2 linked regions of the Homo sapiens genome follow. The protein of the gene in region 1 interacts with the protein of each later gene in a pairwise test. Each region holds a gene or a part of one and is shown on either strand. Other genes may lie near its edges.

Region 1 (7,025 bases):
GAGAATTGCTTGAACTGGGGAGGTGGAAGTTGCGGTGAGACGAGATTGTGCCACTGCATCCCAGCCTGGGTGACTGAGTGAGAATCTGTCTCAAAAACAATTAAAAAAAAAAAAGTTCTAGTCTCCAGAGCAGCAGCAGCGGCACCAGCAGCAGCAGCATCATAAACTCATAAATCAAAGAAACATGGGTAAGTGTGATTATGTTAAAAACATACACACAGCCAAAATTACCAGAAGCAATGTCAAAAGAAATGACAAAGGCGAACGCAGCCTACAAAGGGCGCATGTGCAGAGGGGCCTACAAACAGGCTCATTCTCGGCAGCACTGCCTCCAACAGCGTAGAGAGGAAAAAAATGCTCTCCAACAGAAAGCTGATTTAATACATTATGTACATCCAAACAATGGAACTCTATGCAGCTTCAAATGAGAATAAACAAGTATTGCCATACGTGGTAGAAAATGACTCAGAGATATTATTAAGAGAATAACGCAACATACCAAAGTATATATATCATATGCTACTACTTGTACAAAAGTGGGGAGGGATTATATACTATGAGCTGTAGCTGCATATAATATCCCCCCACCCCAAATTAAAAGAGAAATAGTGATTGCTTCTGGGATAAGGGGCAGTCTGAGAACTGGGGTAAAAAGTAGCTTCAGGCCAGGCACAGTGGCTCACGCCTGTAATTCCAGCACTTTCAGAGGCCGAGGCAGGTGGATCATCTGAGGTCAGGACATCGAGATCAGTCTGGGCAACATGGTAAAATCCCGTCTCTACTAAAAATACAAAAATTAGGCGGGCGTGGTGGTGGATGCCTGTAATCCCAGCTACTTGAGAGGCTGAGGCAAGAGAACTGCTTGAACCCAGAAGGCGGAGGTTGCAGTGAGTCGAGACTGTGCCACTGCACTCCAGCCTGGGCAACAGAGTGAGACTCTGCCTCAAAAAAAAAAAAAAAAAAAAAAAGGGCCGGGCGCAGGTGGAAGCTCAGGAGGCTGGACAACACGGTGAAACCCCGTCTCTACTAATACACAAAAAAATTAGCTGGGCGTGGTGGTGTGTGCCTGTAATCCTAGTTACTTGGGAGGCTGAGGCAGGAGAACTGCTTGAACCTGGGAGGTGAAGGTTGCAGTGAGCTGAGATTACACCAGTGCACTCCAGCCTGGGTGACAGTGTGAGACTCCATCTCAAAAAAAAAAAGATTTTCTTCTTTGTCTGCAGAGTGGAAGATTTATGAAGACTCAAAAAGCACAATCTAAAAGAACAAAAGTGATATATTTACCTGCTTTAGGGTGAAGGACTCACACTTCTGATTTCAAAGCTTATGGCAAAGCTACTGTAATCAAGACAGTGTAGTACTGGCATAAGGACGGACATACAGACATATAGATCAGTGAAACAGAACTAAAAGACCAAAAACAGACCCTTACATTTGTGGACAATTGATTTTTGACAAGGGTACCAAAACAATTCAATGAGGAAAATACAGTCTTTTCAACAAATAGTGCTGGAACAAATAGATATCCATGTGTAAAAAATGAAATTTGGACACCCACCTTGCATTACATACAGAATTAACTTAAAATGGGTTGAAGACCTAAACATAAGATGTAGAAAAATTATAAGCTGGGCGCGGTGGGTCACACCTGTAATCCCAGCACTTTGGGAGGCTGAGGCGGGAGGATTGCCTGAGCTCAGGAGTGTGAGACCAGCCTGGGCAACATAGTGAGACCTGTCTCTTTAAAAAATAAAAAATTATAGAACTCTTAGAAGGAAACATCAGAGTGAATCTTTGTGATCCTGGGGTAGGCAATGGCTTCTCAGAGATGATACTGAAAGCACAAGTAACAAGAGAAAAACTGGATAAAAGAGACTTCACCAAAATTTAAAACTTTAGTGCATCGAACGACACCAATCTCACCAAGAAAGTGAAAAGAACTCACAGAACAAAAGAAAATACTTGGAAATCATGTATCTGAGGAGAGACTTGCATTTAGAATCTATTAAGAATTCTTACAATTCTGTAATAAAAATGACAGAACCCAATTTTAAAAATGGGCAAGTGATCTGAACAGACATTTGTTTAGCTGAAGACAAAGGCCAACAGGCACAAGAAAAGATGATCAACATCCTTAGTCATTATGGAAATGCAAATAAAAACTACAATGAGACACCACTTCATACTCAGTAGGATGACTAAATTCAAAGAATAACAGGCCAGGCATGGTGGCTCACGCCTGTAATCGCAGCACTTTGGGAGGCTGAGATAGGTGGATCACCTGAGGTCAGGAGTTCAAGACCAGCCTGACCAACATGGCGAAACCCCATCTCCACTAAAAATACAAAAACTAGCCAGGCGTGGTGGTGCATGCTTGTAATCCCATCTACTCAGGAAGCTGAGGCGGGAGAATTGCTTGAGCCTGGGAGGCCGAGGTTGCAGTGTGCCAAGATCGAGATCGCACCACTGTACTCCAGGCTGGGTGACAAAGTGACAATCCATCTCAAAAAAAAAAAAAAAAAAAAAGACAGAATAATAAGTCTGTCCATGTGGATATACAACTGGAACCCTCCCACACTGCTGCTGGGAGTACAAACGGTACAGCTTCAGTGCAAAAGAGTTTGGCAGCTCCTCCAAATGTTAAATGCAGAGTTACCACAACTCAGCAATTCTACTCCTAGGGGTGTGTGTGTGTGTATGTATGTGTGTATGTATGTATGTATGTATGTATGTATGTATGTATGTATGTATTTTTGAGACAGAGTTTCACTCTTGTTGCCCAGGCTGGAGTGCAATGGCGTGATCTCAGCTCACTGTAACCTCCACCTCCCAGGTTCAAGCAATTCTCCCGCCTCAGCCTCCCAAGTAGCTGGGATTACAGGCATGCGCCATCATGCCTGGCTAATTTTGTATTTTTAGTAGAGACGGGATTTCTCCATGTTGGTCAGGCTGGTCTTGAACTCCCAACCTCAAGTGATCCATCCACCTCAGCCTCCCAAAGTGCTAGGATCACAGGCGTGAGCCACCACGCCCAGTCTCTACTCCTAGGTATATCTAAGAGAAATGAAACCATACATCCACATAAAAACTTTTCACAATATTCACAGTATCGTGACAGCCAAAAAGTGGAAACAACCCATCAGGTGTCCATCAGCTGATGAATGATAATATCATTACAATGGAATACTATTCAGCAATAAGAAGGAATGAAGGCCTCGCGCAGGCTTCAACCTGGGTGAACCCTCAAAACATTACACTAAGTGAAGATGCCAGACACAAAGGACCATTTATGTATTATAGAATTTCATTTCTAAAAAATCTCCAGAATAAGTTCAAAACCAGCCTGGACAACATAATAAGACGCTGTCTCTCCAAAAAATAAAAATAGAAAAAAAAAGAAATTAAAAAAAAATTAGCCAGGTGTGGCGGCACATGCCTGTAGTTCCAGCTACTCAAAAGGCTGAGGCTGAAAATTCGTTCAAGCCTAGGAGGTCAAGGCTGCAGTGAGGTATTATCACGTCACTGCACTCCAACCTGGGCAAAAGAGTGAGACTCTATCTCAAAAAAAGAAGAAAAGGAAAACTCCAGAATAAGCGAATTCATACAGACTGAACTAGATTAGTGGCTGCCAGAGGCTGAGGGAAGGAAAGATAGCGACAGACTGCTACTGGGCATGGGGATTCTTTTCGGAATAGTTAAAATGTGCCATACTTAGAGAGTGGAGATAGTTGCACAACTTTGTAAATACACTAAAAACCACTGAATTTTGCACCTTAAAGGAGAGAATTTCATGGCATTGTGAGTTTTTTTTTTTGTTTTTTGTTTTTTGTTTTTTTGAGATAGAGTCTCCCTCTGTCGCCCAAGCTGGAGTGCAGTGGCGCAATCTCGGCTTACTGCAACCTCCACCTCCCGGGTTCAAGTGATTCTCCTGCCTCAGCCTCCTGAATAGCTGGGACCACAGGGACCCACCACCACACCCGGTTAATTTTGTATTTCTAGTAGAGACGGGGTTTCCCCATGTTTCCCAGGCTGGTCTCAAACTCCTGATCTCAGGTGATCCACCCGCCTCAGCCTCCTAAAGTGCTAGGATTACAGGCATGAGCCACTTACCTCAGCCAGTATTGTGAGTTATAATAAATAAAGCTAATATTTTAAAATTTTAAAATTTAACTACTTTTAATGGGAAGTGTCTACATGATAAAAGACATTATACACAAAGTTAAGCCAGGCGCGGTGGCTCACGCCTGTAATCCCAGCAGTTTGGGAGGCGGAGGCGGGCGGATCATGAAGCGGATCCTGGCCAAGCAACATGGTGAAACCTTGTCTCTACTAAAAATACAAAAATCAGCTAAGCATAGTGGCGCACACTTGTAATCCCAGCTACTCAGGAGGCTGAGGCAGAAGAATCCCTTGAACCCAAGAGGCGGAGGCTGCAGTGAGCTGAGATCGCGCCACTGCGCTCCAGCCCGGGCGACAGAGCGAGACTCCGTCTCAAAAAAACAAAACAAAACAAAAAAACAAAGTTAAAAGACAAGTCACAGACTGGGAAGATACTTGCAGCTTTTATAATCCATAATGATCAACATCCAGAATATACAAAGAATTACTCAAAAAGAAAAAACGGGCAAAGAAAATGAACAATTTGTTGAACAGAAAATCTTAAACATCAATAAACATATAAAATGGGACTCAGCTTCACAGTAATCAGTACTGTGGTATGCTCACACTCATAAACTGGGCAAAAATTAATGCCTGAAGTTAAGGAAATGCCAAACTTACTTTGAATGCACCCTCTGATTCCATGGATAAGAGATCCCCATCGAATGGAATGAGATCTAAGCTGTACTCCTCCCTGTGAATAAAGGATCCCAAGACACCCAGATCCTTCAACCGCTGTTCGCACAACAGGCTACGGCGTGGCACAAACAGAATATGAAAATCTCTCGTTGGGCCTCGTCTATCTTCACTGCAAAGGAAGCAACATTTGTTAGCTTATGAGCTCCTAAGAGTCATGGACCATTTTGCTTTTTTTATCCCCACTGCCTGGCACATAGCAGGCACTAAATAAATGCTGGCTAGATAAATCATATAAATACTGACTCTCAGGCCGGGTGCAGTGGCTCACACCTGTAATCTCAGCACTTTGGGAGGCCAAGGCGGGCGGATCAGTTGAGGTCAGGAGTTCGAGACCAGTCTGGTCAAGGTGGCAAAACCCCGTCTCTATAAAATATACAAAAATGGCTGGGCGCAGTGGCTCATGCCTGTAATCCCAGCACTTTGGGAGGCCGAGGCGAGCGGATCACGAGAACAGGAGGTGGAGACCAACCTGGCCAACACGAAGAAACCACGACTCTACTAAAAATACAAAAAATTAGCCGGGCATGGTGGCAGGCACCTGTAATCCCAGCTACTTGGGAGGCTGAGGCAGGAGAATCGCTTGAAACCGGGAGGCAGAGGTTGCAGTGAGCCGAGACCACGCCACTGCATTCCAGCCTGGGCAACACAGCGAGACTCCATCTCAAAATAAATAAATAAAAACTAAAACAAAAATATACAAAAATCAGCTGGGCATGGTGGTGTGTGCCTGTAATCTCAGCTACTTGGGAGGCTAAAGCAGGGGAATTGCTTGAACCCTGGAGGCAGAGGTTGCAGTGAGCAGAGATTCCACCACTGCACTCCAGCCTGGGCAACAGAGTGAGACTGTGTCTCAAAAAAATAACCAAAAACTGACTCAGACCCAACGTGTTACAGCTGTACCCACTCTCTCTCTCTTTCTTCCCCCTGACAGGAAAGCATCACTGAGTCCTGGCGAGTACATTTTAGCATTCTCTTAAACCATTTATGGGGCATTGAAGCTCTCAGGTTGATTGAAATAGGATATCTGTGTCTCAATAAAAACAAATGGTTCTTCAACCAAAGCAATGCAGCCACAAAGAGTCTTAAATTAAAATGAAAGATCACTTTTGACTCCCACTCCTACTCTCCTTGACAGAGAACTTCCAAAAATAGCCCATATGCTTTTAAGATTTTAGGGGCTGCAACAATCAATTGTACCACAGAGTGCAGACTCGGCTGGGAGCACTTCCTCTATAGACTGGATGCTATATTAAAATTTAATCAGCTTTTTTTTTTTTTTTGCTTATGAAATTCAAGTACATGCAGTATATTTAAAAATAACTGCTGGAGGTTTATTTTTTTAAACTAGGGCCCTTTTTACTGACACAGGTTTAAGCTTTTGGCTATCTTTAAAGAATGGGTAGCTTTTGGCTATCTTGAAAGAATGGGTAGATAGGATGATCCTCCTCTCCAACTGCTGACAACAACTTCCTAAGTTTCTCATCCTCTCTATTTTTAATTTTTGGGGGGTACATAGCAGGCGCATGTATTTATGGGGTCCATGAGATGTTTTGATGTGGGCATGCAATGTGAAATAAGCACATCACGGAGAATGGGGGGACACATCCTCTCAAGCACTTACTCTTTGAGTTACAAAACAATCCAATTACACTCTTTTTTTTTTTTTTTTTTTGAGACGGAGTCTCCCTCTGTTGCCCAGGCTGGAGTGCAGTGGCGCGATCTCAGCTCACTGCAACCTCTGCCTCCCGGGTTCAACAGACTATCATGCCTCAGTCTCCCGAGTAGCTGGGACTACAGGCACAGGCCACCAAACCTGGCTAATTTTTGTATTTTTAGTAGAGACGGGGTTTCACTATGTTGGCCAGGCTGGTCTCGAACCCCTGACCTCAAGTGATCCACCCGCCTTGGCCTCCCAAAATGCTGGGATTACAAGTGTGAGCCACCATGCCCAGTCTCACTTTTTAAGTTTAAAAATACGTAATTATTATTAACTATAGTCACCCTGTTGTGCTATCAAATAGTAGGTCTTATTCTATTTTTTGTTGTACCCATTAACTATCTCCACCTCCCCCCAGCCCCCATCTTCTCTTTTATATTCTTCCATGCCTATCTCAGTTTTCCAAAAGACCACCTTGCACTGGCAAGAGTGAGGGTCTTCCATGAGAAGG
Region 2 (7,025 bases), on another chromosome or scaffold:
TTTCCTCAACTTCTTGTGATTGATGTTACCAGTATTTGATTCTTACTCCTGTACAAAAATCTTAGAGCACTTAAGGGAGGGCAGGAAGGCAGGCAGCCCACAGAAGGAAGTTTCTGGACTCATGCAATTCTCCCTGTACAGCACTCAGTTTCAGTATAACCTCAAAATCCTCCAGGAACTCTGGTCAGTTCTACACAGCACCATCATACCCCCTTTTCTGGGATGATCTGCAAAATGTCTTTGGAGGCAATTCTGAAAGAACAGTTTCAAAATTGGTCTAAGTAATATTAATACTAGCATCACTACAGTAAGTACATGATTTCCCAAGGGTATCATTTTAAAGGATAATCATTTGATCTATGAATTATGATAAATTTGTTTTAAAAAGCATTAAAGTTTATTTTTAAATTACACAAAAAGCACTGTTTAAACAATGGTTATAACTAGTGAACATTAAGAAATCTTGCAGGCAGGTGGATGGGATTGAAATACTCTTTCTTGATTTTATAGTTTAAGGGCCAAATTGAGCACTGTTTATGTCTGCATCAGCTACCATTAAAAACTTTGAGGCTGCTGGACACTCAGTAAGGAATCAGAAGTTTTTTAAAAAGATGCAAATGAATGGAATGTGTCATTTCAAAGCCTGTTTGGTAAAGGAGAATGGATGACCCACCTTTTTTTAAATATTTTTTTGAGAGAGGGTCTTGTTCTGTCACCAAGGCTGCTCCTGAGTTCAAGTGATCCTCCCACTTCAGCTTCCCATGTAGCTGGGACCACAGGTGTGTGCTATGCCACACCCAGCTAATTCTTAATTTTTTTCATACAGACAAGAGTCTCACTATGTTGCCCAGGCTGGTCTCAAACTCCTGGGCTCAAGTGATCCTCTGGCCTCTGCCTCCCTAAGTGCTGGGATTGCAGGCATGAGCCCCTGCCCCCAACCCCCATCTCAATTTTGTATAGAGGCTGTATAGTCTGAGAGACATAAAAGTTTTTGTAGCTCAACAGACCTAGTTAACATTCCTGGCTTCACCCCTTTGTAGTTGAGTAAACCTCTGCAAATTATTTTCTCTGAAGCCCAGTTTCCTTACTTGTAAAATGCCTGGTGAAGTGCCTGGCAAACAGAAGGTATTCAAGAAATACCAGTTCCTCTGTGAGGGTGTTTTTTTCAAGCTAAGGGTTGCAACCCATTGGTAGATATCAATTTAGTGGGTTGCAACTGGCATATTTTAAAAACTGAAACAATAAAAAGCATCAGAATGGTAAGTATTGTTCATTAAACATATTCTAAGGTTTGATATAAATGCGTTTTTTACTGTGGGTTACAGCCAAAAGGTTTGAAAGTCTCTGCTCTACAGAGAAATTCTCAGATTATGTTAAAAAAAAAAAAAAAGTCCTTAGGATTGCTGCCTTTATCCAAATGAGGGCCCACAAATTTTAAGACATTAATCAAAGTGTTCCCACTTTCTAACTTGTTGCAGTAAAAATAAGACATGGAGAAAATATTTAATCTGATATGATAAAACATTAAATTCAATTTTAAGATTGGTTTCTGTGTCACACTGACTATGCTTATAAACACTTTATCATTTATAGTTGATCAAACTCTTCTAGCAATTTCTATGAAAAAGTTGGCTATTAGGTTCCATTATAGGGAAATGAGATACTTTTTAAAAGGACTGTAACTTGCCTATGTGTGAAGACTGCTAGAGTAATATTCCAATCCTGATGAGCAGTAAAAGTCAAGGGCTTATATGAGTACATACAGTGGTATTCCACACTGGCTCAGTAAAAATGAGAGATACCAATACCAAGTGTGAGCTTCAAATACAGGCCTCCTTCAGGTCTTTATGTAAACCAGATTTACCTTATAATGAATCCCTAGTGCTGCCGCTAAGTTGGTGGGCTGAAAGGATAGCCAATTTGGGATGGAAGAGTGGGGTAATATGCAGTGATGAAGAAGGGTAGAATACTGGGAGTTTCAGAATTAAATGACACAGCAGAATCTTGATGTAACTGTTTCTTAGATTTATAATTTCAGCTGACTATGCTGGACGGGTGATGTCAGAATTACCCCTGGAACTGAGGTTTAGGAATCTTGCTTTAGTATGTGCCTGGGTGAGTTCTGATCCTCATTCAGGTTTGATCACCCTGTGTTAAAGTGACAGAGCAAGGTCCAGAAACTAGAGAAGAGGTGTAATTCAAAAGTAATTATCCCAGCCTCACAGGTGTCCAATATCACAGGTGTCCAATACTGGATCAGAATCTGACACTTATTCAAAGTATTTCCTTCTTGGTATTATTAATATGTTAATGATATAAAGCAGCAGAGAGCAATACTTGATACTTTCTAGTTATTTAATGATACTAAGAAATGGTGCTGTTTCACTGGATTTCATTGATGAGATTTAAGACGTATGAAAGAGAAAGTCTCTTTAGACAGGGACATGAAAGGTAGCCATCAATAAAAGTTACTAAAAGTAAACTCAGAAAGAAAGAAGTGATAAACCATCCAATCCCCTAATGAACCTTAGCTCCTGGCAGAGAGACAGCTCACACCTTCTGGGGTGCAGGTGCCCATCCCTGTGCTCAGAAAAAAGCGTTAAGTAAGGCAAAAAGTGATTCCTCCTATTTTAAATGAGTTGGGGTACAGAGGGGAGCTGCCTGTAGTCTTGAATTCTTTTTTTCCAGTATTAAAGCCTTTCTGCGGTTTGAGATAGACATGCAGTTGGGCTGGGCCATGCTTGCTGTGAATGTCAGGTGTTGAGATTAGCACCACACCATTCCCCGGGTCTGAGTCTTGCATGCGTCTTTGTCCATCATTGTCTAGAATGTGAGAAAGGTAAGCATGGGAACGCCATTTTGGGGAAGAAACACCAGCTATAGAAAGCAAAGGGATGCATAGGAGATAAAAAGTCTGGGGAAAAGGATGTGAGGTAGCAAGCGAGTTCTCAGCTCCCCCCAGAGACCAGCTGAAAAGAAGACTGGGTCAGATACCCCCTATCTGGCAGATATATCACCCCTCAAAACTGGAACATGCCCCAGGAAATGTTCTTGGTGGTTTTTTTCTCCTTGCTCATTTTAGCCCAAACTCTAACAATGTTGAAAATATCTCGAAATTTCTTTTTTTCTTTTCTTTTTACCTAGAGGTTATAGGAAGGGATGAACAGAGATGACAGACAAGACAAAAAAGGTTATGAGAGAATTCCTCATTATACATGGGTAGAATTCACCCCAGAAACCAAAGAACTTTTCATAATTACAAGGGAGGGACAGCACAGGGCACAAGATCTTTGAGGTGTTAGAAGACAGGCTGACAGACCAAGCTTGGTGACTGGCTTAATAAGTCTCCTACCACTTGAAATTCTGTGTTATTTATTTAAAGAGAGGCAGAGGAAGAGTTCAGAAGCCAGAAGATTTTTGGAAGAGAAGTTGAGCCTCTTGCATTTTCTTACATCATTAATTTCCTTCACCAGAAGATATAGTTGGACCAAATTGCAATAGGGTTCGCCAATGGACTCCATTATGTAGTCGACCTGTGCTCCTCACTAGGCCCTGATTTCGCTATCTGATAACAAAGGCTTCTGAACTCTTATTCTTTTCCTCACTAACAAACCTCAATAATCTACACTTAGCATTAAGGTCTCCAATTCAGGGTTATGGAAGAAACTAGTCTTCCATAACCCAACGTTTCTACACATCTCAAGTCCTTATCAGAGTTATAGGTTCAGTTTTCACATTTCCAGGGAGAAAATCTGCTCCTTGGCAGTCTTCAAACTTTACCTGACATACATTATATACCCTCAGCCCAGGGCCTCAATCTCTTAACATCTCCATGAACACCCCAGCAAACAACAAAATATATCCATTTATCACACTTCAATCCCACTTGAACATCAGTAGCCACTATCTTGATATACTTGTGTTCCAAAAGGTGACGGAGTGTCCAACAGCAGCAAAGGTCCTCAGGATAGACATGTTGGCACCAATAATACTGAAATTTGGTTTTTAACTGCATTTCTTGTCAGTTTGGCTGGGAAGATCTGGACAGCTGGAAGTGAGCTTCTCCATCATTTTCTGTTTCTTTCTTTGTATCAATTTTCCACCTGTGAAGCCCAACACCCCACCACCAAGTGCAGCTGCAATTCCTGCCACTTTGAAGCCTGCAAGGAGGCCAATAGGACCCCCTACCATTCCCCCGATGAGTGCACCTGCCACAGGCAGAGCTGCCAGCTTGTATTTTGCAGCCTGTAAAAAAAAAAAAAATTCAATTTAGAAACTGAGTTGAGAATATCTGCCTGTGGTGATGTGCGTTTTCCTCTCATTACTCCTGGCAATGCCTCTTTAACTCTTGGTACATAATTAACCTTAGAGACTGTACTTGTAGGGGGGAAAAGAAAGTATTCCACAGGTACTGCAATTGCTCCAGATCTCAGAACTTAGAGAGCTGAGCTACAAAGAGTGGACTGCTACAAATTGATTTTACTTGCAAAACAATCAATTCACTAACTATCTAGCTGGCTTATTTAAACTGTTTCGGCAGCCACAGATTTCCCCCAAAGCTTTTATGTTGCACAGAAATTATTCAGTGCTGTGTGCCTGGGGTTAAAAGCAACATCCTATGGAAAATAGATGGTCCCACTCCATGTGTGCTGTCACATACTTACACTTTTACCCTCTGCAAATATTCCCTGGTAACACCAAATGCCTTACAGCAGAGCTACAGTTTATTCTCTCTTTGAAGAAATTCCTCTCCTGATAGAATGAATCTTAGAGTAGAATATTACAACATTGATTTCTTACACTACCTATGTGTCATTTCTTCCTTATTTCCTTAATTGCTGGTTCCCTCAACATTGAAGAGAGCAGATCAATTGGGTTAATACTAGAGATTCCTGGGAGCCAGAGTACCATTGATTTGTCAGCAGGAGCAGAATCTTACCTTCCCTAAGTTTTTGGTTCCCTCTTCAACATTCACAGCAGCACTGTTGACATGGTCTGCAATGCTGTCAATCTTCTCCTGCTGAGACTAGATGCAAAGGAATTATGAGTGAGCGGTCCTGCTGGGGAGCAGCAGGGAGCCAACACACACTATTTTAATTCCTGTAATCAGGGCCCTGGGTACTGCAGCCTTGCCATCTTAATAGTGGTTCATTAATAGCATCTGATAAGCCATGTCGAAAGGACAAATTAACTTTCATAAAAAAAAGGGGGGGGTCTTAATTATTAGGTAATAAAAGGGTGGCAACTTTACAGCAAAAAGCATCTCACGCTAAAATTCACTCAAACATACAAACATATTATTCTCCAAATGAATCTACTTTCCAGAAAAAAAAAATCCAAATAAGCATTTACATGTCATGTTGGGTTTGATGGAAAAAAAAAACCCAACAAAATCAAACCCCAAAATACCTCCCTAACTTACCTTCTTTGAGGATTCAGTTTAAATCAGGCACATTTACCTTAGGAGTAAAATGCCCTTGGTCCAATAAATACAAATTGTTATGTTTCAGGAACAAGACTACAATACGGTTTGATCTATTATGAGATCTTTCCATTTGTAATATGCAGTAGGGAACAGTGAATGAAATCACTGTTCTGTGCTTTACACCTGTGTATCTTAATACATTTTAAAATCATGACAGTTTAAAATGTTTCAGATCAAATATATTAATAAAGCATTCTACATAAAATGGCAACACCTGTGCTGGCACAACAGCAACTGTGACTCATGGAATCTCTGGGTAGAAGGAATGTTGAGGTCATCAGGTCAATCTCCTCTCTGATGTGCGAAGCCCTACTGTAACATTCCTGACAAGTGGTTACTGAACCTCTGCTCAGATACCTCCAGTGACACGAACTCATTACTTGCTGTAGGAACACATTCCCATTTTTAATTCAACTTTATTTAGATAGAATTTACATATAACAAGTACTGCTTTTAATGGTATAGTATGATGAAATTTAGCAAATGTATAAACCAACTATCACAAATGTATAAACAACAAATGTATAAGCCAACATATAATCAACCATCACAGTTTACAGACTATTTTGGTTTTGTTTTTTTAATGTGCAGAAAAAAGAGAATCTCTCTTTGATCCTAGATAGATGCCACCTGCAATGAGGGTGAAATAATTCAACTTTAATCCTGAAGTGTTTGATTGCCCTTATATAATTGGCCTATTCATTTATATTGAGGCAGACACATACAACACTTTTCTAATTCCAACCATTATTTCATTTGAAAACATGAAGCCCAAACCACACAGCTACTTTTTCCCCATGTTTGTTTCCTCTTAGCATTACTGATATTACTTCCCTTCTCATACACAAAATATGTCTATCTTCGCCATTGTGGTATCCCTTCATTCCAATATTCTCCACCACTATCTTGACATCTCTAAAACAATGCCTAAGAAAGTCCCTTATCAGTTTTCCTTTGAATGTCTCTGTGAGAGACAACTTTAACAATGGTTCTCAGTCTTCCACCTGGAGGCTTCTTAAAACACAGATTGCTGGGCCTAATCCCCGGAGTTTCTGATCCAGTAGGCCTGGGATGAAGCCTGAGCTAGTAAGCTCCCAGGTGATGCTGATGCTGCCAGTCCACAATTCTCACACTTTAAGAACCACTATTATATGTGCTCAGATCAAGGGCACCACCTTTAGTCAGATAATCTGTGTTCAAATCTCAGCAAACGCCACTATGTGCTCTTAGACAAATTACTCAAGCTCTCTAGGTGTTGGTATTCTCATTTATCAAGTAAGAATAGTGATACTTATACCTTCATAGAGTTGAAGTGGGGATAAAATGTGTTTGCAAAGTGTGAGGGGGGAAAAATAGAAAAATTTATCCTAATTTCCCCAAGGAAGTGTTAACTCTCATCTCTCTATCAAAAAATATATTTAACTTTTTCTTTCGGTGCTTGAAAATTCTAGGACACTAAAACTTCAGGTATCTTTTAGCATTCATTCAATCATTCAATTTTTATTTTCCTCAATAGCAAAACTTATTTAAGTCAGCTTTC

The links. Proteins that work in one complex are often made in the same cells at the same time.
Region 2: the proteins of VPS33A (region 1) and STX17 interact in binary tests that used the Homo sapiens proteins (3 or more experiments, as listed by UniProt).

What each region holds. Positions count from the first base shown.
Region 1 is NC_000012.12:122,256,482-122,263,506, forward strand, and holds part of VPS33A (vacuolar protein sorting-associated protein 33A), read right to left. Parts: intron 4,967-7,025; coding exon 4,780-4,966; intron 1-4,779.
Region 2 is NC_000009.12:99,965,654-99,972,678, reverse strand, and holds part of STX17 (syntaxin-17), read right to left. Parts: intron 5,027-7,025; coding exon 4,940-5,026; intron 4,246-4,939; coding exon 4,006-4,245; 3' UTR 1-4,005. UniProt on the Homo sapiens protein: SNAREs, soluble N-ethylmaleimide-sensitive factor-attachment protein receptors, are essential proteins for fusion of cellular membranes.